Regions from separate parts of the Homo sapiens genome. Here region 2 is linked to region 1. The links come from fine-mapping of genetic effects on gene expression. A gene starts in region 1. The other region holds a variant in brackets. All regions are shown on one strand. Distances are from middle to middle. Region 1 holds the start of CNOT6L (CCR4-NOT transcription complex subunit 6 like). Region 2 has its middle 94 kb from the start of CXCL13.

The links.
Region 2: its variant is fine-mapped to the expression of CNOT6L in unexposed skin (GTEx, PIP 0.95).

The regions. Positions count from the first base shown.
Region 1 is chr4:77,812,071-77,828,083 of GRCh38, reverse strand. CNOT6L (CCR4-NOT transcription complex subunit 6 like) reads left to right here and starts at 8,716. Exons shown (of 12, transcript NM_144571.3): 1 at 8,716-8,780. The coding sequence starts at 8,776. RefSeq lists an enhancer at 6,177-6,226 and silencers at 7,670-7,819, 8,080-8,239, 8,280-8,379, 8,870-8,939, 9,020-9,419.
Region 2 is chr4:77,691,821-77,707,833 of GRCh38, reverse strand. No RefSeq gene overlaps it. Among named protein-coding and RNA genes, the nearest start is that of CXCL13, 94 kb to the right of the region's middle. The variant T/G (reference allele first, on the strand shown) is at 7,271.

The DNA.
Region 1 (16,013 bases):
AGAGATAAAGACAGAATTTGCAATCTAGGATGTGAAAGACAGATGTGTACACATACAGGTAATTATAGCATAATGTCATATGCTTGTTCAGTTTGCATGCTGGATAGAGACATCTAGGCAAAAGGTTAGTGGGGACTGTGCTTTGATAGACTGCATGCACCCAGAGGGAAACATATCCTAATTCATCTCCACAAACGGGGTACCTCTTTTTAAAAATGCTTCAACCAATAATAATGCTTTATTATCATTTAGTTCAGTGATTACCAAACTTATTTTAGCAGCCATTAGCCTTCTTTGAAAGAATAATAATACAGAAACACAACTTATTAGTTCAGATGTTTTGGAGAGATCTAACTCAGATTAGATCTAAAAGAGAATTTGCTGGTTAATTTAACCACACTTACTGTAAGAGAGTTGGGCACAGCCTGTTAAGGGAGTACATAGCAGGGTTTTTAGAAAAAGCTTCACAGAGGAAGTGATGCTTGAGGTGAATCTTGAAGGATGATTTTAAGAAAAGGACAAAATGGGAAACAGCATACTATGCTGAGGAAAGATACTATACTTTGCATGTGCAAAGATATCTAAAAGAGCACATCCTGTTTAAGAAGTGACAGGTGGTTCATTAAAGGCAAGGGTGAGAGAGAGAAAAGCTGGTGGTTAAATGGCTGCAGGTGGTGGTGGTAAGAGAAGGGCAAATCATTAAGGAACATATATGCTTGTGAAGTTAGGCTTTATTTTATAAATTATGTAAAGTCATTTAAAGAGCAGAGTAATTAATATGAACAGGGTATGTTTTAGGAGGATGTTAGGATTATACTTAGGATACTAAAACAATAGACAAAATGCAAAAAGCTCAGGCAAGAGCTGACAGGCTGACTTATAACTCTGGAGTGCATTAGGATGAAGGGGCTAGATTAATGAAAATATTTAGTAGGCAGAATTGGTAGATCTTGGTGAGGCTGGGAGAGAAAAGTTAAGGATTACTCCTAGGATTCTGCATTAGGTGACTATTCATATGATTACATGATTTTTAGCGTGATAGTACCATTTTTAATAACAGAGGGTCATGCAAGACCAAGAATCAATTTTGGGGAAAAGACAATGAGCTCAGTTTTAGACATATATATCTTGCAATGTGTATAGCCTGTCTAGGTGGAGATATCCAGGAGGAAATTGACAGTATAGATCTAAATGTGTGATGAGAACTCTGGATTGAAGATGTATATTTGGGAGTTGTAAGCATAAAGATGGTAGTTAAGACCTGTAGATGTGATCATCTAAGATTTAAAGTTTGTTTGGGTCCAATATGAAAAAGGGGCTCAAAGTTTGAGGGGCTCAAAGAGGAAAAGGGATCCATTATGGCCTCCATGCCACCAAGTATCTTCCCACTATGTAGTCAGTGTCTGAAATTGCCGTTGTTTTGATTTATTCTTTTAGGTTAAGGTTTATTTCTAAATAATTACCTCATAAAAATACCTTTGGGAGGAATTAAACAGAGAAGCTTAATAAAGAGAACAAATGAACTAGGTATCCAGAGACCAGTTTCTAACACTGACTGCCTGGGTGATGTTCATTCAGCAAGTCATTTTGCCTCAGATTCCTCATGTGGAAAATGCAGAAGTAGGACCAAGTGATCTTCAACGTTTGGTAGACTACGATTCCACCAATCATAACGACTTAGTTTAGTTCAGTGATTTTCAAACTTATTGGGCAGCAATAAGTTTGAAAGAACTTATTGAACGTTCGAGAGTTCTTTCTTTGAAAGAACTTATTGAAAGTTCAAGAGTTCTTTCTTTGAAAGAACTCTCATGCAGAAACACAATGTATTCAGATGTTTTGGTTGCAGAGGTCTAACTCAAGTTAGTTTGGATGTAGAAGAGAATTTACCAGTTAATTTAGCTATATTATGTGAAAAGGTGCAGCTGGGACCTCAGGGATCACCAGAACCTGAGACTGGTGCACCGGCAGGAATTGTTCTTTACATTTCTCATTTGAGTGGTGGCTTCATTCTACACAAGGCCATTGACCGTTCTGACTTCCTTCTGGGCTCTACTGCTATGGTGGAATAGCCCTTCTCCCCTTAGTTCCACCTGAAAACATCCTGGGGAAGAACTCTGCTTGCTTTGACTTGAGTCCTATGTCCACCATTGTAGCCAAGAAGTTGGGGGATTCTTTGAGCTGTAGCTGCACTAGAATTACCGATCATGGTGCAGGTAGAAATAGTTTCCCCAAAGACAGAGAGCATTGTTCAAAGAAAAAGGTTACTGGGCAGACAAATAGATGGTCAATATATTAAGAGATAAAACACAGGCTTTCTTGTTCAGGACCCATCTACCTGGTTCCTTTTGTGTACTCTATGTAGCTTCTGAAACATACCTTTGAAAACCTCAAGAAGATGCTTGGAGTACAGCTTTAAAATAGTTATCCCTCAGTATCCTTGGTGGATAGTTTCTGGACCCCCTCATACCAAAATCCATGGATCCATAAGTCCCTTATATAAAATGGCATATATTTGCATATAACCTAAGCATATCCTTCCACATACTTTAAATCGTCTCTAGATTACTTGTAACACCTAATATAATGTAAATGTTATGTGAATAGTTGTTATACTTTGTTTATGGGGTAATGACAAGAAATAAGTATCTATACATGTTCAGTAGAGACATAACCATCCACTTGTTTTTCTGAGTATTTTTGATCCTAGGTTGGTTGAAACCAAGGGTATGGAATCCATGGAATGTGGAAACCACAGCTATAGAGGGCTGATTGTAATAGATTTTATTAATTGGAAAGCATGCCAGTCACCTCCAAGGCGTAGACAAAATGAAGCACTGGATATTTATTGGTGGTGGTGGTGCTCGCCTAGTAAAACAATTTTGGGAATATAGGAGTGTGGTGTTAACTGGTGGGGTTGAGGTGGAGATTCTAATGTATTCAGGATCAAGGGACTTGAGCTGGGAAGTGTAGAAAGGGGAGGTAGGACATCTGCCTTCAAAGTTCAAAGATGAACTCGGCTTACTTTATCATTTTATGGAGAACTGATGGATCACATGGCACACTATTAATAATGGTGAAAAATGTTCATCTTTGGCTAAGATAGTGGGAATGATCCTTGGTGTCATCCATCCACAGCCACTCCAGAGAAAGGAACAAGTAGGAGATTGATGGAAAGAGAGTTGAAGACCCCAGAAAGGGGCAGAGGCAATGAGAAAAGCCACGTGTCTTGGACGAGTATGCCCACAGTAGATGGTAAGAAATATAAGAATAAGTGGGAGATGGGAGAGACAGAGGAGGGAGGGAGGGAGGGAGAAAGGGGAATAAATATGTACAAGATAGGAAGATGGGGAAGATTGTAGTTCAGTAAAAGTAAGACTATGTCACTGAAATATAGTTTGAAGGCCCTGTCAGGAGGTCCAGGAAGTAAAAATTCATGATTATCTTGATTAATACTTGCTTTAAAGTTATTTTTTATTAATAAATATGATGTAAAATATATTTGTTACTAATTATACCTTACTGAATACACTTAAATGTGACATTTTTATTGTTATGTGGCTATTAGTATGAAAGTATGTATTAAATAAAATCAAATTTGCCAGGCGCAGTGGCTCACACCTATAATCCCAGCACTTTGGGAGGCCAAGACAGGCAGATCACTTGAGGTTTTGAGACCAGCCTGACCAATATGAAGAAACCTCATCTCTACTAAAAATACAAAATTAGCCAGGTGTGGTGGTGCATGCCTCTAATGCCAGCTACTTGGGAGGCTGTGGCAGGAGAATTGCTTGAACTTGGGAGGCAGAGGTTGAGGTGCGCTGAGATAGTGCCATTGCACTTTAGTCTGGGCAACAAGAGCAAAACTCTGTCCCCCACCCCCCCCAAAAATCAAATTTAATAGATTATCAAATAGTACTAATTTTCTTTTTCTTTTTTTTGAGATGGAGTCTCACTCTGTTGCCCAGGCTGGAGTGCAGTGGCGTGATCTCGGCTCACTGCAACCTCTGCCTCCCAGGTTCAAGTGATTCTCCTGCCTCAGCCTCCCGAGTGGCTGAGACTATAGGCACACACCACCACGCCAGACTAATTTTTATATTTTAGTAGAGATGAGGTTTCACCATGTTGGCCAGGCTGGTCTCAAACTCCAGACCTCAAGTGATCCGCCTGCCTCAGCCTCCCAAAGTGCTGGGATTACAGGCATGAGCCCCACCACACCTGGCCAAATAGTACTAATTTCTTAAATAAAAAAATTGAAATCTTTGTCTTTTGAATAAGCTGCTCAACAGAATTTCAGAAAAGAGACAAAAGAACAGTTATAAGGGACCTTATAGGACCCGCTACCTGTGTTACCAACAAAACACGGAGAGATAGGAATATTTATTCAGCTCAAACATTAATTGCGAATTTGGAAAAGACACAGGTGGTCTCTAGAACATGAAGCACCTTTTTCTTTCATTGAGTAGGAATAAACCAATTCTCTAATAATACAAATAAACATAATTGTTGTTTCAGAACAAATTGTACCTATATACTGCTGCTACTAAACCAATTTGGTCAAAAAGGCCACACTTAAGCCAGAAGCTTCAATTGGATAAATCATTTCTTTAAAGAGATTTTTTTTTTTTTTTTGAGATGGAGTCTCACTCTGTCACCCAGGCTGGAGTGCAGTGGCACCACCTCGGCTCACTGCAACCTCCTCCTCCAGGATTCAAGCAATGCTCCTGCCGCAGCCTCCTGAGTACCTGGGATTACAGGTGCCTGCCACCACACCGGGCTAATTTTTGTATTTTTAGTAGAGATGAGTTTTCAGGCTGGTCTCGAACCCCTGACCTCAAGTGATTAGCCTGCCTCGGCCTCCCAAAATGTTGGATTACAGGAGTGAGACACCACACCCACCTATTTTCCTATTGCATTATTTCTAATCTTAAAAACTGCAATAACTGACAAACGTGAAAAATCCTCAGAAATGAGATATCGAAAGCAGGTTACTCTCTGTAGCAAACTTTGATCCACTATAAAATTTCTTTTTTTTTTTTTTTTTTTTTTGAGACAGAGTCTCACTCTGTCACCCAGGCTGGAGTGCAGTGGCACAATCTTGGCACACTGCAAGCTCTGCCTCCCGGGTTCATGCAATTCTCCTGCCTCAGCCTCCCGTAAACTGCTTCTTAACAATGGCTAAAGTGCTACTCATTTGTTGTCGTTTCTGGGGTGTCTTTTGAAGCGGAATCTTATGAGGAACTATTTTTTTTTTTTGAGACAGAGTTTCCCTCTTGTTGCCCAGGCTGGAGTGCAATGGCTAGATCTCGGCTCACTGCAAACTCTGCCTCCCAGGTTCAAGTGATTCTCCTGCCTCAGGCTCCTGAGTAGCTAGGATTACAGGCGTGTGCCACCACACCCAACTGATTTTGTATTTTTAGCAGAGATGGGGTTTCACCATGTTGGTCAGGCTGGTCTCAAACTCCCGACCTCAGGTGATCCACCACCCGCCTGGGCCTCTCAAAGTGCTGGGATTACAGGCCTGAGCCACTGCGCCTGGCCTGTTTGTTTTTTAATCTCACTGAAGACAATTTCTTGGCATTTGTATAGTGCCAACTATCTGAAAACTATTATTTCTCCAATGTCATTCTAATTGCAAATGAGAAAAACAGCAATCTATTTTTTGGATAATATAGTTAACATATAAAAGTATTGCTTTCCTTTTGTTTTTAGTGAGTCAATCAATTTGATATGGTATAAAGAGGACATCTTTGAGAGTAAATTCTAAACTTAACCTGCATTAAAATAAATGATCCTATGACAACATCCACTGTCCACTATTAACTCTGAAAGTTACAATTACCCCTCCCCACCATGGATTGTGATGCATTTACTACTTAAAATTTAGAGGCCAACAAAGAACATCCCATATATAAAGTTGACCTTCAGGACCACCAAAGTCCACCATTTATTAGTGCTTCTTTAACATCCACAATGGCCCTGTCATTTTTCCCCACCTGTCACTACTGCTAGGCAGCCTGTGAGAGTGGGCAGATGTCAAATGGCTCACGTGTAAATGCCAGTGCTGTCAGCCCATCCTCCTAGACATTGTTGTGACTATTAATTTTGTGTCACCTCTCATACTTTCATTTCTGGTTTGTTCTGTGAGAATTTCCTGTTTATGTGTCAGCTTCCCCTACAATGATAGTGAGTTACTTAAGAAAAGGGACTATATATGCTTGGCTGTGTGTCTCCAATGCTAAACATAGCATCTGGAACATAATATGCCCTCCATATGTGTTTATTGTATATGAATGAAAATTCATTGAATACTCACAGAAAATTCATATAAATTTATTGTTATTTAAAGATGCTTAAATCTGTGAGGCTATCACATTATCTGATTTACATTTTTTCAGGTATTTATTTTCCTCTTTCCTTCTATAATTGGTGGTATTTCTCCCTGGGAGAGTGTTTGTGTGCTACGGAGAAATACTGTGGCAAGATGCCATTGAGGCAGGTCCACTATTTGGACTCCTGAAGTGACTTGCTTGGCTTTGCTGCTTACAAAGCCAAAGATAATTATTCATTTTATGTCAGCCTAGACTCTTAGATAGTTGGGAAAGAGTGAGACTTCTTCCAGGCTTAAGGCCATTTTGACATGTTTCACAGAAGATGGTGTGGGGCTGGTGTTGCTAGGGAGGGAAATGGAAAATTAACATAGGTAGAAAAGAAAATAGTCTGTCGTCTTGTGAACTGAGGGGCTTTTTTACTCACTCATTCACCCATCCTGGTGCCAAGATGAAAGTGGTGCAATAGTTCTGCAATTATGGACTCTTGTAACAGCTGTTCAGTTTTAGCTAAATGATGATTTGCATTTTCACCGCACCTTTTCCCCCAAGAGATGAAGGCATTTTACATTCAGTAATAAGGCCTAAGATGAATTGCAACCAACGCAACGTGCTTAGTGTGCTAAACACTCCTGTGGGGGAAAAAATACTGAACATTGCTAATATACCCTTGACCAACACTGGTAAATACACGAGCCCGGGCATGCATTGAGAAAGAGATTAAAATTGTGCAAAACTGCAACAGCAGTACTCTGCCTCCACAGCCGGTGTAATTTGCTTTTTGGACTGCTGGCCCAAAAAAGCTGAAGCTGGCCCACAAAAACAAAAACAAACCCCAGAAACTTAAAGTATCACAGCCAGGTTCACCAAGTAAACACTACTATTTCTAGTTTGCATTTGGATGTTTTCATTCTGTAGATGGCATGGATAAGCTACAAACAACAAACTAAAGTCTACAACGAGAAGGGAGAATTAGAAAATAGGACCGGGTTATCGCTGAGCGTCACAGGTTCTTTTATTTACCTTTGACGATACAACTTACAGATGCTATATGTTTTTAAAAAAAATCCACCGAATATGTCAGGAAACATTTCCTTCGGTCACTTCACCTCCCCTGGCGTCTCAGCCACCTAGACCTACGCTCTGCTTCGCTGTCAGGTCGCCTCGGGCGAGGAGGGTGCAGTAAACAGCGCCCACACAAGAACCCGGGGTGAGGCGGTTTCCCGTCTCTTCGCCAAGGCTCTGTGGATGTGGGTTTCTGAAACTCTACCACTCTTCTCAGCCCCGCTCCTCGCTCAGGCCAGGAAAAAAGAGTGAGAAAACAGCCAGAGCAAAACAGAAAACCATTAAGAAGCCCGGGCCTCCGCGCGCTCACCGCGACAAAACGCGGCGCACGGGGGGCGGGGCCAAGGCGCTGCGTAGGAGCTCCGCCCCGTCACCGCCCCGCCTCCTTCCCCTCACCCCAACCCTCCGCGCCGGGGAGTGACTGACTCCCGCCAGCCCCTCCACGTCAATCAACCCTCCTCGTTCTCGCACTCTCTGCACCTTGTTATTAATCTCAATACCGATATCGCCCGGACGCCTCTCCCCCGGCCCTCGGGGGTGTGAACGTGTGTGAGCGGGAGCGAAGGCACCGAAAGCTGGCGTCTCTGTTCAACCTCGGCCCCAGCAGCACCCGGCGCAGCGGCAACCCCCGCAGCGGCGGCAGCCCCAGCACCAGGAGGCCAAGGCCAAGGCCAGGCTCTGCGTGGCTCTCGGAGCAGTAGCCGCGGCTCCGGCCCTGCGGGGGCGCAGCTTCCTTCGGCTGGGGCCTTCGCGCCGGCGGCCGCGGCCGCGGGGCCTCTCTTGCGCGCCTGGGGTCACTGTCCTCGAAGCCCGGCGGCGCGGCCCTCGTCCCCCTTCCCGACCCCCGGTCTGTCTCCTCGCTCCCTTCAGCCGCCTTCCGCGCCGCCGCCTCTGCCGTTCGTCAGGCGGCCCGGCCCGGCCCGCCCGCCCCGCATCCCCTCCGGCCGGTGCCTCTCCCCTCCGGCGGGCTGCCTGCATGTCTTTGCTGCCCTCAGCCCCGCCGCCACCGCCGCCGCCGCCTCCCCCGCCGCCGCAGCACCAGCACCAGCCGCCCCGTCGCCGCCGCCGCCGCCGCCGCCCGGACCCCGGCGCGCTGAATGCAGGTGAGGAGGGGGCGCGGGCCCCCCGAGACCCCGGGCCCGGGTTCCCTGCGCGCCCGCCCGCGAGCCCCGGTTACGGGCCCTGTGTGCCGCCGCGGCTTCCCCTCGGGGCGGGCGGGAGCGAGGCCCGCCGTGGGTGTTTGTGTTTGCGTCTGCGTCTGCGGCCGCGGCTCTGGAGGGGAAGCATCTGTGGGGGCCTGGTGCGCGCGCGCGCGCGTGTTTGTGTGTGTGTTTCCCCTGCCGCGGGGAAATGGCTGCTGTTGCTTCTGGGCCAGAGGAAGAGAATGAGGTAGAGTGTTCTTTTGCCTCCGAGTAGGACCGAGAGTGTTGGGAAGAGGAGCGCGTCCCCGGGGAAATGAGGTGGGAGAGGGACAAATGTGCGTGTGGGTGTGCGAGTTGGGACTTTGGCGGGCGGGGAGGCGGCCCGAGGACCCACGGCGAGTGGGTGTGTGTCGGGTGACTGGAGGGGGCGGCGGGGCTGACCCGCGTCTCTTCAGAGGCGGGCGAAGGTTCCGGGGTGTGTGTGTGTGTGTGTGTGTGTGTCGGGGGTGGCCCGGGGCCGGGACCCCAGAGTGGCGTGTCCCTCCCGCTTTGTGGCTGCGGCTCCCGAGCCTCGCAGGTGAGAGCTGCTCCTAGGGGGCCGGCCGGGGAGGGCTGAGTGAGTGCGGCACACGCGCGGCAGCGGGGCTGGGAGAGCTGCTGGTCGGTGCCGCGCCGCTGATCCCGGGGCCGCCGTTCCCCGGCCGCGGCAGGAAGCGCGCCGGCCTGCAGCGCGGCCTAACTGCCTGGGCGCCCGCCCACCTCCCCGGACGCCTCCCGGGACGGCGAGCCCGCGCGAGCCCACGGCGCTGCCTCGGGCCTGGGCAGGTGAGGGTCGGAGGCGGGACTCGCCGATTGCCGTCGCCGTGGCCGCCTCCGCGTCTCCTGAGAGGCGAAGGCTTATTTTGGCGTTCCAACTGCAAGCCTTCGCCCGGCCGGCTGTGGGACCCGAGGGAGGAAAGTGAATCAGAACAGTCAGTCTTGGGAATACGCGGTGTCGTGTTCCCTTCTTTTCATCCTTCCCCTAAGGCTGTGTGGAGGGACTGAGTAAATATTTTGGATTTTTGTTGCAAATACTTTGCCGTTGGTAAGATTTTTTTTTTTTTAATTAGACAAACATTTTCTTGGAAGGGCTGAGGAAGAAAGGGAAACTGGCTTTCCTGGCCTGTGGGATTGGATGGATTTTGTGCATTTGAAATTGTTTTATCCTGCCTCCTAGGGGGAGAGGCGTGTACGCGCCGCCGAGCTGAGGAGCTGGGTGAGGAAGAGGAAGTTACTGGAGCTGTCATCCTGCTTAACTCGGTCGGCTATTGAGCTTAGACTGTTTAGGTGGATTGTGTTCAGGGAGTTTAGCTGAGCCGTTTGTACACATTGGAAGCACAGTGTTACATTTTACCGTATTGCCTCTAGTTATCTTGTCAATCAAGATAGGCTCAACAAACATGTTTTCCTCAGTCTCCAAAAACTAGATCAAGCAACCTCTGTTGTCTACTCAGTATGTGCTGCTGGAAAGCTATTTTGAGAATAGCCTAAGCAAAACCCAGTTGTAAAGATAAACCTGCTGCCAATAGGTCTACAGTACATTTCAGAACCAAATACAAATGGCATTTGGATAATTATTTGCTAATGTGCTTTTCTACTCCAACCTCATTACATTTGTATGTAGTTAGATCATTTAGCTAGAACCGTGCTGTGGATAAAAGCATAATACAGTTTCGATCCTTGTAGGCCGTACTCTGTGTCATGGCCAGAGATTGCTCTTTGCACCTGGTCTCACAAAGAAATAGTGTATGCTGTTCACGGGGAAGTGGAGGGAAGAGAAGGAGGGGCGAAGAGCTGTTCTCTATTACCACTACTGGAAAAACAATTTAACATACGTAGTTAGTGGGAAAAGGACTTGTTTTACAGACTTCAGTTAGCCTCCCAGCTGTGTGATTTTTCCTTAGCTGTTTGACCTTAGGTAACATATCTATAAGCCACAGTTTTATCAGTCACAGAGAGCTAATACCTTTATAGTAAGGTCGTTTTGAGAATAGAATGAGAAAACATATGTTTGGCATGTAGTAGATGCTTAGTTAAATTTTAGTTCTGCCTCCTGCAGCCCTGACTATGGGCATTGAAGAACCTTTGCAAACACAAATATGATTAATTATTTAGAGCAATATTAAGTAACTATAACGTAAAAAAGACAATGGAATCTTTCAGAGCCCTTCAGTATACAAAAGGTATATATATAAACTTTAATGTATATAAGAAGTTTTTTTCTAATAATAAAAATAGTCATTAAAATAGCCTAGTTATTTATAAAAATAGTCATACTTAATTTTTTTTTCATATTTTCAAATAGACCATCTCTCAGTTTCATTATTCTTTATGATTTTCGTTTTGTAGCCCTGGAAAAAAATTTTCAACCTCTATATAGCACATGTATGTTTCAATACAGTTAAACATTAAAAAGGATCAAGGAACCAAAATTTAGATAGATCCCCAAAGTTTAAATGCTACGAAAAATGCTAGCTCATGTTGACTGATTTGGTAAATAAAACTTCTTAGAATATTTCTCTGAATATAAGGTAAAATCCTCTGTCCACTTAATTTTCAATAACTTTCCATTTTTAGTATTTTCTCTGGAGTAGGAAATGTGTTCATTAAATTTTAACTGCTGTGTGGAAAAAATAATGTCATGGAGAGGTATGGAATTTAAGGTAAAGATAACAGAAAAGTTAACATAAAGATTGTTTTCTTTTTGTTTTGGGAAAAGACAGGACAGAGAATGTGGGAGTTTGATTGGTTTAAGTTTGTCATGGCCCTATTTACAAATGCCGGGTTTCCCAGTAGGGCTTACGTAATTTATTTGTATCAATAATGATAAGCTTTAAAAAATATTATTTTCTAAAATTCAAACTAAAATTTCAACACATTCAGTATAGCTTTTATGCATATTTTTATATAAAAATTTCTGTGAAGGTAAGAGTCACAGGATGGGGAGGGGGAAGCTCTCATCATTGAGGGGCTTGAATTTTTATAAATAACTAGGGGCAACTATTAGAATGCAAATTGTGATTTTCTTAAAGTGTGTGTTGTGGGAGTGTGTATTTACATTGAACAGAATCTTCTGCCATGTGGTTATATTTAAAGGAATAATTCTTACCTTAAAACTATAAATGATACTTTTTAATACCTTAGAAACAAAGAAATAGAAATGAATCTGCTCTTATTTAGTATTTGGTAAAGTAATTTTCATTGGACTTTATGAATTATTTTAAAAGACTTTATATATATATTTTTTAATTTGGGAGAATTGGGAAGAACATTTCCCTGTAGTAATCATGAAAACAGATGATATTGAACTATAAAGATATTTGGATATGAAGTGGAAGTACTAAGGTTATTATTTAGACTAAAGGAATTATGTTACAACAAAATCAAGGTGGAAACTTGTTTAGATTTTAAAAGTTAATGTTACTTAAATGGGCTTTTAAGCAATCTTTCCAAAATATCTGTTATTAATGTCTTTAATTTGGGAGAATTGGAATACTTAGGAATTTCTGTATGTATTACTTTGGGTAATGCTAATCAGAGTAATAAATACATTCCAAAATTTCAAAGAAGTTTACTTGCTTTCATGACAGTTCCAGTGCAGATGTTTACTTGCTTTCATGACAGTTTACTTGCTTTCATGACAGTTCCAGTGCAGGTGCTCCTGGTTAGCAGGTTTCTTGTGGCTTTCCTCTTATGTTGTTTAGGGACTCATACAACTTAGATCTTGTGACTCCACCATTTCTTAGGGCCTTGGAGTCCTCCCTATTGCCTGAAGACCATTTCTTAAGAAACTCCAGACTTAAATGACAAACATTCCTCCAAATTTTATTGGCAAGATTTGTCACAGAGTCTTATTTGAATGCAAGGGGAGTGGGAAATGTCCCTGGCAGGTGGAAAGCTTGGCCATCTCTGCTACAAGGGGCATTTCATGGTGTTATTTTAGATGTTAGCATATATTTATGAAATTACATCCAAAAGGTGAATTATGATAGTTAGGAATTGCTTTCCATCTTCAAAGAGTAAAATTGGGTGTGAGTGGAGAGTGGTGGGGAGAGGAGAAAGGAGGGAAGAGTCACAGGAGTGGGAGGGGGAAGCTCTCATCACTGAGGGGCTTAAATGACAAGTGAGTTTCTGTAACTATTTAAAGATATAAATTTTTCAGAGAACATTACAGTTGGATTCTGTAACCTTTAGTGGGTCTCTCCTGTAGTATCCAGTTATTGATTGTCATTGTGCTTTAATGAGTTCTGGCAGTTTGAGTTATTTCTCTTTGTATTTTGAAATCAGTTCAGATCAGTAGGACAAAACTCTGAATTTCAGTTTCTGGGTATAGTTTCATAGGAAACACATTTTTTGAATTTTCTTCCTCTGTTATTGGGATAGGTGATGAAGATTACTTTATACTTTGAGGGAAATCTCATTTAGGTGGACCTTACCATATTCTCTTGTTTGTTGCTGCAGTTTTTATAATTCTAAAGTTATTAAAATTAATACATGTGAGCCTTAACCCAGAAAGACCAATAAAATCATCAAGTAAACAACAGAGGCTTAATTATTAATTTGTGCTCATGCTTTGTGATGAAAATACTACAACTTTCTTTTACTAACTGCACTGACACTGGACCTCTAATACAGTAAATGGTATTTTATCACTGGACAACTTTAATTGAATCACAATTTATTCTATGATTGTGCAGGTTTATTATAATGTGAAACTTCAGCTCTGTGTCACCTTTACTTATTTTTTATTCTAAGAGTTTGGTTAGGGATCTCTGGGGAGTTATATATAATCTCTTTATTTCCCAAAGGGAAGATTTTGGAATAGTCTGGTTAACTTCTCCATGGTAAATACTTCTCTAACATCTTGCATCTTGAAAATTGAAAACCTAATCTGAGGACCCACTGTGCACCTATTATTGTACCCAGTTCTAAAGAGAAGTATGAAAGATGTAGAGGCTTATAGTTTGTGAGTAAGGGAAATAAAGCATGTAATTTAGTTATTTCAAAACAAATGAACTAGTGCAAGTCAATATGATATAAACTGTTTATAGACATTCTGAGACATAAAATGGAATGTCAATTGGGTCAGGAATTACTTAAAGGGTTGCTTTTTTTTGGACAACTTTTATGAGGTATAATTTAGATACCTTAGAAGTATCCATTTAAATTGTACAACTCAGTAGTTTTTAGTATATTAACAATTGTGCAACCATCACCATAGTTAATTTTAGAACATTTTCATTACCTAAAATATAAATCCTGTATCTTTCAAGAGTCACCCTTCATTCTCTTATGCCCCTAGTTCTAGGCAATTACTACTTCCTTTCTCTATAGATTTGGCCAATTTTGGACATTTTGTACAAATGCAATCTTAATATATGGTCGTTTATGATAAGCATATTTCACTTACCGTGTTTTCACGGTTCATCCGTGTCATAGCAAGTATTTCATTCTTGTAATGGCTGAATAGTATGTCAGCATAAGAATACACCACATTTATCTTATTCATGAGCTGATGGACATAGACTTTTTGGCTATCATTATAAATCATGCCGCTGTGAACATTCATGTACAAGTTCTTATGTATGTATGTTTTGAATTCTTTTGGGTGTGTACCTAAGAGTGGAATTGCTGGAACATATACCACTTTGTGTTTAAACTTTTGAGGAACTTCTAGACTGCTTTCCAAAGCAGTCGCAGTATTTTACATTTCCATCAGCAGTGTATGAGAGCTCTAATTTATCCACTTCATGCCAACAATTGTTATTATCTCCTTTTTTCATCATAGTTCTTCTAGCAGGTGTGATTTGATCCTGGTTTTGATTTGCATTTCCCTGATGGCTAATGATGCTTTTTATGTGCTGTTGGACATTTGTATATCCTCTTTGGAGAGAAGTGTGTGAAAAGACTCAAATTCTTTGCCCATTTTTATAATGAGTTTTTTAATTATTGAGTTGTAAGAGTCTTTTTTATACTCTAGATGTGTCCCTTATATATGATTTGCAAATATTTTCCTCCATTTTGTGAGTTGTCTTTTCATTTTCCTGATGGTGTCATTTGAGGCACAAACGTTTTTAGCTTGATGAAGTGAAATTCTTGTTATTATTTTTGCTGTGCTTTTGGTGTCGTATCTAAGAAATAATGACTTCTTGTTTCTAATCTAGCTAATCTATCTAATATATCTATTTCTAATCTATATCTAATCTATTTCTAATCTATCTAATATATCTAATCTAAGGCCACAGATATTTACTTCCCTGTTTTGTCCTGAGAGTTTTATAGCCTTAACTCTTACATTTAGATCTTTGATCCATTTTGAATTAATTTCTGTACATGGTCTGTTGTAGAAGTCTAATATCTCTTTGCCTGTGGGTACTTAGTTGCCCCAGTACCATTTATTGAAAAGACTGTTCTTTCTCCATTGAATTGTATCATCACCCCTGTCCAAAATTAATTAACTGTAAGTGTGGAGGATTTATTTCTGGACTTTTAATTCTATTTCATTGATTTATATGTTTATCCTTATACTAGTATGGTCTTGACTACTGTAGCTTTGTAATTGAGAGGTCTGAGTCCTCAAACCTCTCAAAGTTTTTCCTTTTGAGAAGAAAAAATGAAAAACTCTTTTTTTCTTTTTCAAGATTGTTTTGGCTATTTGAATCTCTTGTGTTTCCATATCAATTTTAGGATCAGCTTGTCAGTTTCTGCAAAGAAGTCAGCTGGAATTTTGATGGGGATTGTGTTAAATCTGTACATCAATTTTGGGACCATTGCCATCTGAATATTAGGGCTTCCTGTCCATGAACATGGGATGTTTTTCTATTTATTTAGATCGTCTTTAAGTGTCAACAGTGTTTCATAGTTTTCAGAATATAAGTTTCATACTTCTGTTGCTGCATTTCTTCCCAAGTATTTTATTCTTCCAGATGATATTGTAAATGGAATTAAAAAAAATTTGGGGGGTTTTTGCATGACAAGTGCATAAAAATACACTTGATTTATGTTTGTTGATCTCGTATCCTCCAACCTTGCTGAATTTCTTAGTTCTAATAGTTTTTTTTTTCTTTTTTTTTTGAGATGGAGTCTCACTCTGTCGCCCAGGCTGGAGTGCAATGGCACTGTCTTGGCTCACTACAACCTCTGCCTCCTGGGTTCAAGTGATTCTCCAGCCTCAGCTTCCTGAGCAGCTGGGATTACAGGTGCCTGCCACCATGCCTGGCTAATTTCTGTATTTTTAGTAGAGATGGGGTTTCACTGTGTTGGCCAGGCTGGTCTTGCCGACCTCGTGATCCACCTGCCTCAGCCTCCCAAAGTGCAGGGATTACAGGTGTGAGTCACTGCACCCGGCCAGTTCTAATAGTTTTTAAGTGGATTCCATAAGATTTTCTACATACAAATATCATGTCACCTGCAAACAAATGAAGTTTCAATTCTGCTTTTC
Region 2 (16,013 bases), 120 kb after region 1:
AACTGTCTTAAGGACTTCTTGAATTCTAGTTTCTACTTCAAAATCTGTTTCCTGGAGCGTCTATCCTGTGGCAAAGAGTAACAGGTTTCGCATGGCAGGTAATATTAGTGCTCCCAGATTTTAGAAAATCTTGCCACAGAAAACTGTAATACTTGGCATATAAGTTCTATGTTTGTGTGTGTATCATAAGGATGTATTGAATACTTAAAACTGTAAAACATCAGGGAAAAACAGGTAGGCTTTATTTAAGAGATCAGTGTATATCAATTTGTGGGGATTTGTGATCTCTTTCCCATGGATTAGAGGTGTCTATAATAAGGGATTGCATTAAACAGAGTTTGATTGAATAAACAGAAGCTACCTTATGTTAATCAAGATAAATATAATGCAGTGAATCAGTTAAATGGGCAAGGGAAAGATGAAGTCAAATAGTAGATGGTGATGCAAACCAGAAATTAGCAACATCCAAAAGCCACTGTAAGCTTCAAGACACTAGATATTGGGAAGAGATGCCACTAACAAACAGATACAGGAAACTGGTTTGCCTGTCAGGAGTTAGAATCATGGCAAGGGCTGTCCATAGGAGGTGGTATCACAGAAGGAGGGGCTGTCTTTTGAGGGCTGGGATCAGAGAAGGCTCAGGCTCTGCTGGAAATGCTACCTGAAGTAAGAAAAGAAGAAATTCCCTGGCTTTCCTTCCACTCTTCCCTCCAGTTTCCCTCCAGGTCTCCCATTGGCTGAACCTAACCGTAAGTGATGGGTAAAGAAGCCTAGAAAACGTTGCTTCCTTGACACATTCAGAACAGAGGAACAGTGGGGAATGCATGCAAGACAAAGCAAGCAAATGATTAGTACATATGCTGTTTTTACGACTCAGCATCCATTCTCACACTTATAGCCATTTTAAACTGTGATACAACCACAAGCTAATGCTGCTATATAACAGGATGCAACTGTCCTTTATATGAGCATGCTTCCCTCACCAGTGCATTTCTTAACAACTTAGTAAAAGGAGAGTCCTCTGGATCCTTCAAAGCAAGGGTATGGTTGGCAGTGGTTAAGCAGTTTGCACGCTGTGAATCCATTCCAGATTTCTAATTCTCCAGACTCCTTTGCCTGTACTGTGCTATCTAATACTACAGCCACTAGCCTCATGGTTAGCGGCTATTGAGCACTTGAGATAATTTGTTAAAAACATATTAAAATGTGGGTGCTAGAAAATTTAAAATTACATTTGTGGTTTGTATTTTATTTCTGTCTGAAAGCATTGTTCTTCAGTGTGCCAAGCAACATCTCTACTTCATATCTTACTGGCCTTATTCTACTAAACTAGCAGGTGATTGATACCACCGCTGGTGCTTGAGTGAGTCACCACAGGAAATCCTGAATCCAGGTATACATGTCTATCTCAATAAATTCCGCCTGATCCAACCTTTGTTTCGTCCTTTTGAATAGTCCTTTAGAATATATTTTCATACATGTCCCCTACATTTAACATAAATTAACAACATTTTGCAGCTCCTTTGGTGTATTTGCTATTTCATATGGCAGCAGATCATTCACTTTCATCTGGGCTATGTTGGATCAAACTCTTGTTATGAGATTAGAAACGATGGGTGGTTTGAATGGGCTCTGGAAGAATAAGCATCCTCTTCTAGGGCATCTGCCACTAGTGAAGTCGTGCAATGGTTTTATGCAAGTGAAGATTATTTGCCTCAGTTCGGGTGTTAAATGGAAAAACTGACAAAAGGAAAGCTGCTTTTGCTGGAGAGGAAGGCTCAGGGGAATTCAGCATTCAGAACCTCATCCCTGTCTGCCCTTTCAAAGTCTCGGGTACCACTCCTTCCCAACCAGGTCCTTTACCTCAGCATAAAATACCTGATAGGACTACACATGTAACTGATGATGCATTATCAAGCCTTGGGCCTGATACTCAGTCATCTGCCTTATGGTGATGGAGGTATGGAATGTGGCTATATAGCTTGATTTTTGGGTTAAAAAATTTAAGGCCTTAGGCTTATCTTTTTCTTTGTGCATACTCTTCAGGGCAGTCAGAAACATCCATCCTATGTAATAATTCTTGTTATTATTATTACTATCATAACAGTCAAATGCAATAGTTACTTGACCAAAGTCTTGCCTTCAACTTGTACCATGCCTTGAGAAACTGCAGCTTATAGTTTAAGTATGATATCGCTGCCTACCACAAATTGCTAGTGTCCCATTTCTTGCCTGTAAGGAGGTCGTCACTGCATTCATGATCAAAAATGACAACACAGTCTTAGACTTCTGTGTGGAGTATCAGTAAGAAGCCCCTCAGAAAACCAGAAATCACTCTGTGTATAGCAGACAGAAGACATTTAGTGCAGGGGACTTGTTGCACAGGTAATAGAAGAGTTGTGAAGCCAAATGAGAAGATATTGAGGAATCCTGAAATTAGGAAAAGCAGGAAAGTGCTACCACCATTTTGGCTGATGAGGTAGAAGGGAAGACATAGTGTTCTCAGAGCTCAGAAACTGAACCATCTAGTAGGAGCTAGAACTTCTCAGTGGCTGTCTTGTGAGATCTGGAAATACATAGAATTATCCCAAAGGAGTTGCTGTTATGGAAAAAAGTCACTAGGCCAGGCGCGGTGGCTCATGCCTGTAATCCCAGCACTTTGGGAGGCCGAGGCAGGCGGATCACGAGGTCAGGAAACCGAGACCATCCTGGCTAAAACGGTGAAACCCCATCTCTACTAAAAATCCAAAAAATTAGCCGGGTGTGGTGGTGGGCACCTGTAGTCCCAGCTGTTCAGGAGGCTGAGGCAGGAGAATGGCATGAACCCAGGAGGTGGAGCTTGCAGTGAGCCAAGATCATGCCACTGCACTCCAGCCTGGGCAACAGAGCGAGACTCTGTCTCAAAAAAAACAAAACAAAACAAAACAAAAACCAACACCAAACAGTCACTGCCAGAGGTGCCACTAAGCAGAGAGAGAAAGGGAGAAATACCCTGGCTGCTTCTCTTCTCCAGGGTATTTCTTCAAGTAATCCATTAAAGCTTCCCATTTGCCAAACCTATTCAGAAGCCAGTTGTTAAAGGAGCCTGAGAAATGTACACCTTCAGATACAGGAGAATTAGGGAAGGATGAGAATGAATCTGAGAACAATCAGGCAAATGACCAGCACAAGAAGCATATCCCATTCTCAGTTACGTACACACTATGTGCTGTGGATAGAGTCCTAGAGATGATATGGTACTTCAGAGAAGCTTGCAAATATATGGCCATATCATATATATTATGTATGTTGTTAGTAGTAACAGCATGAATGCTAGAGAAATCTTGTGTAGTTCTAGCATTAGTTCTGATTAGGGTTAGTACCTATTTTTTATACAGTATATAGGTGAAGTTATTATACATACCATCTTATGAGAGGCATGAAATTACTTAAAATAGCAAGCTTTTAAATAAGATTCTACCTAAGTACTTTCCTTATTCAGAAACCCAAAGAACAACATACATTTTCCCTTCTATGAGCTTGGCTCTCTTTAGTGATTTGCAACTACATAGCCAAGATGATTTGTCTAAACTTAGGAGACTACAAACGATGTGTGAAAATGAGGTACTAAACATATGGAAAGGAAATAGTATGGTGCCTCCTTTGAGATATTTATTTCTGCTGAAACTTTAATCTCTTAGTATTTTCACATCTATAAAATATTCTTTGTGGGGGAGGGGGAAGGAAACTCCCTTCTGCTTTAAGAGTCCCATTTTAAACCAAAAATGCACTTGCCCAACTTTTTATTTATTCCCTTAATAGTTTTGAGCTGTACCTATGGAAAGTCAGGTAAATTCAGAAAGCTTGAGTTTAGATATTTTACATCCTATACCACGCTTTCAGGGGAAAAAAAGGGCTTCATATTTTGAATATGTGAATTCTCTACCCTGTGGTCAGGAAGTTAGATTCAGGCATTGATCCAATGATCCCTGGAACATCTTCCACTTTTTTCCCAGTGGAAGGAAGAAAGATTTGCTAGAGGGGCTGACAGCATGAGAATGTGCTGCTACTTTTAACCCTCCAGACTGGGTTTCTCCCCAACACAAGTGACCAAGCAATTGTTTCTGAAGAGTCTTGAATGATATCCACATGACCAGTTTCTCCATTTTACATGATAATGTAAATTAGTACTAAGGGGATGTCTTTGGTTAATTACTGCAAACATTTGAGTCTGCAAACTCACCCCTTACAAACTATATGACACTGAATACTAGATTAAATGTGAATAAGGCAAAAGATGAATGTTTCCTCTACTATCCTAATGCAGGCCAGTCTCCAGGCATACTTTTTCTGGGGGGAGAAGGGGGTACAAAAAAAAAAGACAGAGAGCCATTGGGAAATTCACAGGGTAAGTTAGGGAGGTGAGAGGATACTGAAGGTTTTTGCAACTACCCATTTTTGGAGGGTGGAGCAGTTTTTTGGTTCATCTTTGCACAGAGTCCTCAATAAAAGTTTATTGAATTAATTAAAGGAGACAAATATGACAGCCCTTCAAATACTTAATATTGTTATATGGGAGAGGCATTAATAAGTCTTTCTGTAATAGCCACTTTTTGTTCTTACTTTTATTCCCTTAAAGTCACACAGAATAATAAATGGGAGAGTTTCTAAATTATTGGAATTGTTTAAAAATTGACCACGTAGAGACTTTTTTGCTATTACTTCTGGACAACCACAGAAGAAAATATGCTTTCTGTTGATGATCAGGCTAGACGACCACTAATTAGCCTCCCAACTCTGCCGTTTAGAATTATAGGATCTTCAGTTTTCATTTTCATTCAGATACTTATGTTCGTATTCATTAATCAAAAATGTCTTCAAAGTTTCAAAGAGTTAAATTATAACTGAAGGAATTTGGAGACAGACCTGTCTCCAGGGCTGTTTTAGTAAATTAAGGTATACCTGTATGTTGGAAAACCTAAGCAGGCATAATATGTGTTTATGGACCAAGAAAAATGGTCATAATATAGCATTAAGGAAAAAAAAAGTTAGGCCAGTGATGGTTTAAAAGTAATGGACAGAAGGTTTCTGAAATTCTATTTTGAAGTTTTAATGTTTAAAAAATGTTTTTATCAAGTATGTGTATGATATATATAAATAAACTAGGACTAGAAGAAATGTAACTTCTAATTTTCTTATCTGGACCAATTTACTTATTTGGCATAACTGAACAACAGCTCAACTCTTAACATAATTGAGCCTCTTTTATTCTGCAGAAAGTTTGATTCCATTACCCTCTCACCTTGAAAGAAGGGAAATAGTTTGATACTGAAGGAAAGGGAGGAGTCTACCCTTGTCCTTTGTTTCCCTCATCATACACTTAGTCTTTAAACTCTCTTTACCTGGAGAGACGCATTTTAGTGGAGTAATGAATCCAGAAACCAGAGATGGACTGTCTATTCCCAGATATCAAATTAATGATCTTGGTCCTTTTTTTCCTCTACCTTTCTATAATGCTCAGCCATGATAAGCATCCATTTCTTTTGAAAAGTCTCTGTTCTCTTGGCTTCTGTGAAACTTCAGAAGATTTGAAGATAATGTAGGAAAAATAATTTATATCTTGTTCATTTTCTCTGTCCACTGGTCTTGAATTATTTCAAGCATCAGCCCTACTTGCTTTCTTTCCTTTTCATTTTTTCCATCCATTATTCCTATTTAGATGACTCCCTAATGTCTGTCTCCACTCCTAATCTCTTTTAGTTCTCTATTTCTAACTGCCTCTTGGGAAATTCTTGGGCACACCTAATTTCACTATCTTTGAAACTAAATGAATCGTTCATCATTAGTCTTGTTCCTCCTCTTGTGTTTCTTAGGTGGGGTGAGTAAAAGATTCCAATCAAGACTAGTTTAAAGTTTGAGGAGCCATGGAAAGAAAGATCAGTCAAGACCACTAGGACTTGAGAACTCCTATCTTTCTCCTCTCCATTTTATTCAGTACAGACCCATTATTACTAATTTAAGTTGCACAAAAGGCTATCAACAGTCTATTTACTGTGCTCTTTTATAGTTTTATTAATTTTATGGAACTGACATAAGTTCACCACTAATCTCAGTCTCTCATTCCTGTTTATGCGTTAGGCTCTTAAGTTTCCCAAATTCAACTTCTTTCATCTTGTAGATATTCAGGAACTTAATCCATGGTGACATGGTGGTATACATGTGTGTTTGTGCTATAAGGGAATAGGGTATTGCTATATAATCAAGTGTGGGAACTCATAAAATGGAAAACTTATCAAGAAATTAATTGAATCTGCACCTCTCCTCTGTACTCTTCCCAAATTCCAAGCTACAGTGGATGGGCAGAGTTATGAACCTATAATTGTCCTCCCTTTTTCTCTAATATTATCTAGAGTTATTCCTTGATCTGATTACGTTCTGAATACAAATGGAATGACTGGAAATGGCTCTTTGTATAACAGGACTGAACTGTGTTTTGAACACCTGCTGCCTAAATACATATTAAAGAGGCTCCTCCAAGTAGATGCCAGTGTCCATCAGTAAAAATACTCAGCTGTCTGGTGGGACAAGTGTTAGGTCACGTGGGCTCTCAGCAACTATCACCATATGCTGAAAATAAATGCCAGAAAAAGAAATAAGAATTTTTTTTTAGCATGTATGGCAAAGGCCTGAGAGTAACCTCCATTATGGTTTTGGGAAGCAAACAATATTTTTGTGCCCATTTTCTGGAATTAGGCAATTATTATACAAAATTATGATCTTGCCTGTCTGAAACTACAGTGGTAGGACTGTCACCTTCCAATGGAATTGTGTATTCAGGGGCCACCAGTTTTTCTTTAGTGACAGTGACCTGTGTACTTTCAGGGACATAGGGAGGAGAGCCCTGGTGAAAAGATAAAATGGGAGAAGTATTTGCTCTATTCTGCTGTTCTATTCCCCTTATCTGTGACTCAAAGAGGTGCCAAGAAAAGAGTCTGAGATGACTTTGGGAAGAAAGAGAGGGCAGAAGAGAGGGAAATAAAAGGGTTGATTTTTTATGGGGGTGGCATTGAAGAATTGCTAATAGAAGAAAGAGTTACAGGAGCTGGTGGAAGCAATAAAATTGTTTAGGCTACCCGTTGGCTGTGGGTTTATGTTGTTAACATGCTGTACCTAGAGCAGAGTATTATATTGGCATTGACTTGTTACTACTATAAATATCTGGAAATGTCTTCTAAACTAATAGCAGTTGTTTTCCTATCTTTTAAAAAATATATACGTAGGAAAAAAAATG[T/G]TTGGATAAAAGTACATCAAGAAGGTTACTACTTGTAAATTATTTCTTATATTCTGTTTTTTTCTCACTTAAGTATTTTTCCAGGTTAACACATATATGTCAAAACCACAGAATATTATGAAGCCATTCAAAATGATTTGGTTGTGCTATTATATGGCTTAATTTTGTATTTATTGGATATTTAAGTTGTTTCTAATATTTTCCTATTGTATATCACTGAAACATAAATGTACTAGAATTTTTCCTTTTTAATATCAAAACTTACTTTGCTAATGTTTAGAATCAGTGGAATTACAGGGGAGCATTTAGGTAACGTGTGACTTACCAAGCTACATGTGGAAGCTTGAGTTTCTAATCTACCTCCACCATTCAAGTCCAGGGAGCAAGAGGGTTAAACTCCTAGCAGATGGTGCTGCTGCTAATGCTGCTGCTGACTGAGCATGTCAGGAATTTAAAGAGTTGCTTAAACAGGGTTAATATATGGCCTGTGGGAAGACAGCTGTTGTGTAGCAGAATTACAGGTCAGGAGGTTAGCCACATTTCCCTGAAAACAGAGGACTCGCCAGAGTCAGAATCAGTGAAAGCCATTTAGGGAAAGGAAAAAGCAGAAAGGTTCTATTTAAGGGAGCAGTTGAATGAGAGGGTAGAAAGTGCTAGGGTAGAACAGAATAACTACCAAATATAGAGGGGAATGGGGGAATGAAAGGAGACAGAAACAAGCATAGCAGAACACTGCCCCTACAGCCTCCACTCTGGAGATGCAGAGAGAGGCCGTACCACCAGCCCATTTCCCAGTTCCAGGGTTCGTTGTCTTATGCTTTCACCAGTATAGGGATGTGAGTTGGGAGAGCTCTGATCCTGCCAGGCTATTAGACGTTTAACATGGCTAATTGGCCCTGTAAGAGGACACAATGGGATGCTACCAAGTTGGAAAAAAAAATTAGCCTCTTGGAATTAAAATCTCATCAAGTAGCTGATATCTAATGCAGTCCAAATTCTGCAAACACCTTGAGGGTCTATTCTTAGTGAAGCACTGTGAAAGGGTATTACGGAGGTTTGAAATTTAAAAATGTGAAACACCCATCTCAGCTCTCAGGTAGTTTATTATATAATACAAGGGTGATGAACAGAGGAATTAGATAAACCCATGACTGTAATACAAGGTGACTAAGAAAACTGCTACCGAGAAAGTGGCAGGAGGGTCAAAAACAAGAGAGAGACCAGGACTGGTGAAGAAAACAGTGAATGTTTCCAAAGGATGTAGGCAAATATTACAAAGATGTAGGAGGGCATTACACGTGAAAGTGATCACATAATCACAGGCACTGAGTGACTAGTCTATCCCTCATACATGTTCATTTTAAAGTACTCTGAGGTTTCCTTCTTTTTTTTTTTTTTTTTTTGACAGAGTTGCCCAGGCTGGAGTATGGTGGCACGATCTCCACTCACTGCAACCTCTGCCTCCAGGGTTCAAGCGATTCTCATGTCTCAGCCTCCCAGGAAGCTGGGATTACAAGTGTGCGCCACCATGCCTGGATAATTTTTGTATTTTTAGTAGAGACAGGGTTTCGCCATGTTGGCCAGGCTGGTTTCGAACTCCTGACCTCAAGTGATCTGCCAGCCTTGGCCTCCCAAAGAGCTGGGATTACAGGTGTGACCCACCGTGCCAAGCCTAACCTGAAATTTCTTTATGGAATAAGTCAGTCTTTCCTCATATTCGATTTCTGGCATAAATGGGTATTCAATAAATATATTTTGAATATTTGAAGACCCCAGTTTTTATATTGGCCTATAGAATGATATAAGGAAAGACCATAGACTTTAATGCTAGATAGATATGGGTTCAAATTTCAATACATTTTCTCGCTGTGTGACCTTGAACACAGTACTCATTCTCTGAGCGGTTTCCTTATCTATAAAAATGAGGAATATAAGGATGGACTTTGCAAAGTTGTCGTAAGGATTAAGGAGGAAGACATGTTCATACACTTGCTTGGTAAGAGCTAGTGTTCTGCTTTCCCTTGCCTTCACCCTTGCCCTGACCGAGTCTGTGTAGCTGCTTGCCACTTCCTTGGTAACACCAGAGGGCAACATCGTCCCATTCTTATATCAAAGTTTTTCAGGAGTGAATGCTTCTTTGCAGACAGATTTTTTTAAATGCTTCAGCAAGGGAGGAAATAGAAACTCCATGCTCCTGAATGTGAATAGGGCGATAAGGGCTAAGCCCTGGAAAGACTTTGGAGCAGCTGCTGTGTTCCTCTGTGGGCAACAGCTATGGGCAGACGCTGTTGGAAGGCACTCCTTGTGCCGTCTATTTCTGCCAGCTGGGTTAAGAGGACTTCTCGTGCTAACAGAACCTTAAACTGGGAATCTAAATCAATCGGCTTGTTTACTACTAGAAAACCATTGTGCTTGTGTGATATATCTGAAAAGCCTGCTGGAATGTGTTTGCCAGAGTCTCATTACTATGGTGACTATGTATTCTAGTTAGCCTGGGACAGTCCTGGTTTATGCCTGTGGTCCCAGAGTAATTATTAGTGCCCTCTTTTACACTCAAAGTATCTCAGTTTTCAGGATAAGTTACATGGCCATCCTAGTCAGAACATTAAAAGGGATACTCACTAACAGTAAGGATCTGACGTAGCAAGAGTCCTCTGGTCGGTCTGGTTAAGACCGTGCATGGGCTTTGGAATCAGAAAGTGACATCTGGGTTAAAAACCCTGCTCTATCTGTGTGTCATTGGCAAGTTAGTTAACTTCTTTAAGCCTGTTTCCTGATGTATAGATTAGGGACAACAGAACATGAATGCACTGTCTCATTTAATCCTCCTAGTGAAAATGCTTACATGAGGCTCTGGGACAGTGATACATGGTTGCTACCCCTGGTATTATTTTTAAGATTTGCTGTAAGATTCAGGCTGTCACCTTAGCTGTATTGATTGGATCTCTGGATTTGAGGGAGTTGAGGGCAAGAGTGAAATGAATTGCACAAGGTTACAGAAACAATTATTGAATTGCTCAAGGTTAGAGCCAAAAAGAGCACCCACACCCATCTCTCTGTCTAGTGCACCAAGGTGGTTGCTGTTTCTGTGGAGATAATTCAAGGTTAAAGATGTGACCCAATGTCTATCCTGAAGCCTTTAGCAAATACTGGGCACAGTATTATTCTGAAGCATAGAGGAGAATAGACATCTGACTATTCTACTGCATTATTCTTTTCATTTTATTGCAAAATGTTTTATGTATGAATAAAAATAACCTTGTCATGAACACCAGAAAATGCACCCCTATTAAATCCTAACATTACTCCATACTTTTTTTTCAAAGAAATTAAATGTCAATGTCATATTCTATTCATCTTATCTGTCCCTATCTTCCCCTTCCAACAAGAGAATACAATAAAAATGTTTCAATAAGGAAAAATAGAAATTAAATGTCACATACAATTAAGACCTCCTATGTACCCCTCTTGTATAGACTTTTCCCTTATTAGATAATATTTTAACAGGTTTTTAAACTTAATTTAAATGGTGTCATACTATATCCCTCTGCAACTTTTTTTTCGTGTTGCTTAATATGTTATCGAGATTTATCCATGCTGGTAAGTGTGGTATACTATTACATTATATGAATATTCTGCAGCTCATTTACTCATTTTCCTTTTCATAGATGTTTTCATTGGTTCCAGTTTTCTGTAATTATGAACGATGCTGCAATGAGCATCCTTATGCATAAGACTCTCATACATGTAAGAGTTTCAGTATGGGTTATAGCCACAAGTGGACTTGCAGGGTCTTGGAGTATTAGTATCTTTGACTTTACTCAAACTGCCAATTTTTGCCAAATATTACCAAAAATTCTCCAAAGTGGTTGTTCCAATTTTCATTGTATTTAAGTTTTTTTTTCCCAGATGAAAATATATTATTTAGTTAAAAAAAGAATATGGGCCATAGTTATTCCAGCAACCAAAGAACAGAAAAACACACTCGTTGTAAAGTATATGCACTTTTAAGAGGTAGGGAAATGAATATTTATTGGATGTCTACTATGGGCTGGGCCCTAAGCTAAGTGATTTACATTTGCTTTTTAATTAATCCCATTACCTATCTGTCACCAAATCCTCTTAATTCTGCCTCGAAAAATCTCTTCTTTTCCCTTTTACTCTTTCCTTAAGAATTTTATTTTTTGCAGAAACACAGATGACACTTGCTGAGTTAAACCAACTGATCTTGCTTCTAGTCTTTGTCCTTGCCAATTTATCCCTTGCAGTCTTAGAACAATCTTCCTAAAGGTGTAAATGGGATCTTGTCACTCCCTTTGGTGGAAACTTTTTAGACTTTTCCATCGACTAGAGGATAAACTTCCAACTTTTTGGTTGGGGCCAGATTTTGAAAGATTTTGCTCTCCAACTTCACCTCATTCCTACTCTTTTACGCTTCATTATCCTGCACAACTGATGGACTAGTTCCCCACATAGGCTGTGTACATTTCAAACTGAAAAAAGCGTAAGCAAAGCTGTGGAAGTTTGAATGTTCTTTCCATCACCCCCCACCTCAGGCAGATTTACCACATCATAGGGCTTTGAGTGATTCATTCTGTCTGGAGTAGGGAAGGGAGGAGTGTTGGGATGGCTTGCTAGAGAAAGGAAGGGTGATTCAGCTATTTGTCATGAATAGGGAGACCACATAACTTAACTTATATTTAACATGTAACTTAACTGGGACACCTTTGAAAGAGGGAGGTTAAAATAATAAAAATTATGTAATTTTTTGAATGTATTAACTGTGTAACATATTGGCATTGTTACATTGGTCTGTAATAGAACTATCTTATAGTTCTATTTTAAAACTCTTTGCAATAAAGTATCATATACTTATGTACATTAGTTCAAAATATTACAGCTACAAAAACCAAGTAAATTTATCTTTAATATTGACATTTTAAACTGAAGTTACAATAGCATTCACAATGATGAGAACTATTTCACTTTTGTCAGAGTGAACTTCAAACCTCAATTTGCTGCAGCAGATGAAAACAATGAGCTATTATTGGACTTAACCTAACTGACTTTCTCTTTGAAGCATCTGAAGACTTAGATATAAAACTGGCATCATTTAACACTTTGAAAAGTTCTTCTGCTAATGGAGCCAACACATCGACAGTTCTCACTTCATTTTTGTACATGCAAAGAGCACTTGGAATTGAAAATGAACGAAATAATGTAGAAGTTTGCTCTAAATGAAAAGTCATGTTTCACTGGGGGATATGTTAGCCCTGAATTCTGAAGCTGCATATCTTAAGTTGGTTTCTTTGGGTGTAGTCTTTATATAGTAACTACTAACTTTCTTTTTATTAAAGGAAGTACCTTGTCTTATTTCTTAGTAAACACCCTATTGAAGTGTAATTCACCTACTTCACATAAAACTGCATAAATTATAAGTATAGAGCTCAATGAACAACCTTGGATCAAAAGATAGAACATTGATAGCACCCATTCTCCCACTGTTATATACACCCCCTCCCCAAGGGGAATTGTTATCCTGGCACCAGGCACCATCTTGTAGTGCTGCCTACTTTTGAACTTCATATAAATGGAATCATACATTATGTATTTTTCTTGCTTCTGGCTCCTTTTCCTTAATATTATATTTGTGAAATTCACCCATGTTGCATATGGCAGGAGTTTATTTCTTTTCTTTGCTATAAAGTATTCCTTTGTGGGAATGCTACAATGTATGTAGCCATTCTACTACATTTCTACTATTTATTTCCAGTTCTGGGCTATTATGAAAAATGTCATTATGAATACTGTTGTACCATTTGGGGGGTGCATATATACTCATTTTTGTTGAGTATATGCCTAGAAGTGGAATTGTTGGGTCATATGTTTCTCAAAAGAAGACATACAAATGGCCAACAGGATACAGTTGATCCTTAACAATCCTGGTTTGAACTATGCAGTTCTACTTATATGTGAATTTTGTGGGTTCCACAGGGCTGACTGTGGGACTTGAGTATGCTCACATTTTGGTATTAAAGGAGGTCCTGGAACCAATAGCCTGAGTATATCTAGGAATGACTGTTCATGAAAAAGTGCTCAACATTAATTATTAGAGAAATACAAATTAAAACCACAATAAGATGATCTCACTTCTGCTAGAATGGCTATCATCAAAAACATGAAAGATAAGTGTTGTCAAGGACTTGGAGAAAGGGAACCCTTTTACCCTGTTCTTGGGAATGTAAATTAGTACAGCCATTTTGGAAAAAAGTATGGAGGTTCCTAAAAAATTTAAAAACAAAATTACCATATAATCCAGCAATCCCACTTCTGAGTATTTGCTCCAAAAGTTTGAAATCAGTTTGTCAAAGAGACATCTGCACTCTCATGTTCATTGCAGTACTATTTACAATAGCCAAGTTTGGAATCAACCTAAACGTCTACCAACAGATGAATGAATAAAGAAAACATGGTAGGCTGGGCATGGCAGCTCATTCCTGTAATCAGCAGTTTGGGAGGCCAAGGTGGGGGAATCACTTGAAGTCAGGTGTTTGAGACCAGACTGGGCAACAAAGCGAGACCCAGTCTATGTAAAATATAAAATACAAAAAATTAGCTCAGCATCATGGCATGCATCTGAAGTCCCAGCTACTCAGGAAGCCAAGGCAAGAGAATTGCTTGAGCCCAGCAGTTTGAGGCTGCAGTGAGCTATAATCATGCCACTGCACTCCAGTCTGGGCAACAGAGTGAGACCTTATCTCAGAAAAAAATAGAAAAGAAACTGTCGCCTGTATACATAATGGAATAATATTCAGTCTTAAAAAAGAAAAGAAATGCTGTGATTTGTGACAACATGAATGTAATTGGAGGCCATTATTCTAAGTGAAATAATTCAGGCACAGAAAGACATATACTGCATGATCTTAGTTATAGGTAGAATCTAAAATAATTGAACTAATAGAAGCAGAGAGTAGAATATGATAATATGGTTCTGTGGTACAAAGGCTGGGGCATGGGGAGAATGGGGAGATGTTGGTCAAAGGGTACAAAATCTCAGACAAGAGGAATTACTTTTTGAAGATCTATTGCACAGCATGATGAATATAGTTACAGTATTTTACATTTTGAAATTGCTAAGAGTAAATTTGAAATGTTCTCACCACAAAAAATATTAAGAATTTGAGATGATAAATATTTAACTATATTAATTATTCTACATTGTTTTGCATCATTTTGTGTCCCATTGGTTATATTATACAAATTACATACATTTATACAATTATAAATTGTCAATTTACAATTAGAAAAAAGAATTGCTGAGTCATAGAGTAGGCCTATGTTCAACTTTAATCGATCCTACAAAACAGACACTATGCATCTGGATTGCTCCAGGTCTATTTCCCACACGCATTTCACCTGTAATTTCTCAGGTCTCCTTTCTGGAGGCCTGCTAGTTTCAGGCATCTCACATGCTGGGGAACGGGCCACTGCATAATTGGCTAATACACCATGTGGCCATTGAGGGCAGCATCATGAAATAGTTCACTCTTCTGATTTCTCTACAGAGAAGGGGTAAGCCAAAGAAGTGGGGCGTGGTGAGCAAGATAGGTACTGGTAAATAAGAATGTGTCTGGAGACTAGTTATCTCCTTTCCTAGTGGGATATACTTGCTGCCACTGGGCTTGATGATTCGCTTTTACCTGAGGAGGGGAAATATCAGGAAAGTGGTCTGAGACAGTGTGTGGCAATGCCAGGCCAGGTAGGAAATGTGTGTTTCCAAATAGGTACAGAAGATGGATCTAGCCTATGCTCATACATACACTCCAGAATTGGAACCACAGAGCATAGTTGAGATTTGGGGTCGTAGGTTTGCTGTTCCAGTGTGGAGAAAAAGGGTATGCACATCAGAGGAATATAGTACGAGGAACCAAGCTGGAAGATGTGGCTGAGTCTCTCAAGAGACTGCCAAATCCTAGGGAAGCTACTTGGGATAAATACCTCATTAATGAGCCGGTTAGGGCACTGGCTCCCCACACCATGTCTATTACTATGTCTATCGTGGCTTCATCAGTGGCGATTACCACGAGAAAGGGAACATCAGCATTGCCTGGACTGTCCCATAACCAGACAACCTCTTTTCTCACCCTTCTGAGTTGGAATTAGGAGGATGAAAACTGCAGGAAAGGAGGGTGTGGTGTGAAAGAGCCACCACACTCCATTCGTACTCCCCTAAGCTAAGTCTAATTGCATGGGAGGAAAGGGGAGCCTTGATCAACTGATTCAAGTTTTAAAATAAACAGAACTGAGTTTTAAGCACAGACATTATGTTTTAATAACTGAAAGGGACAGCAAGTTATAGACTAGGACTGAGATCGCATTAGGGATCCTGCTATCCAGTGAGATGGAGGATTAACAGAGCAGAGTTGAAAACATTTACTGGAAAAATAAAATAGTTCTATGTTTATTCCCAAGTTGTTGAGACTGCTCAGTCAAATCGGTTACATAATCTGACATAAATTCACTCAATTAATGTAATCCTGCACCAAGAGGACAGACCCTTTATCTATTTTGTCTCCTACTATATTCCCAGTGTTCAGCATAAGGCCTGGGACATGACAAATGTTAGTTCCATATTTATTAAATGGGTAGCATGAATGATCTGTTTTTCTTGTTACCACATTTTTGTGTTCTAACTAAAAAATTGCACACACTCCTAATGATAAACTCTCCCTGAAGGCAATCA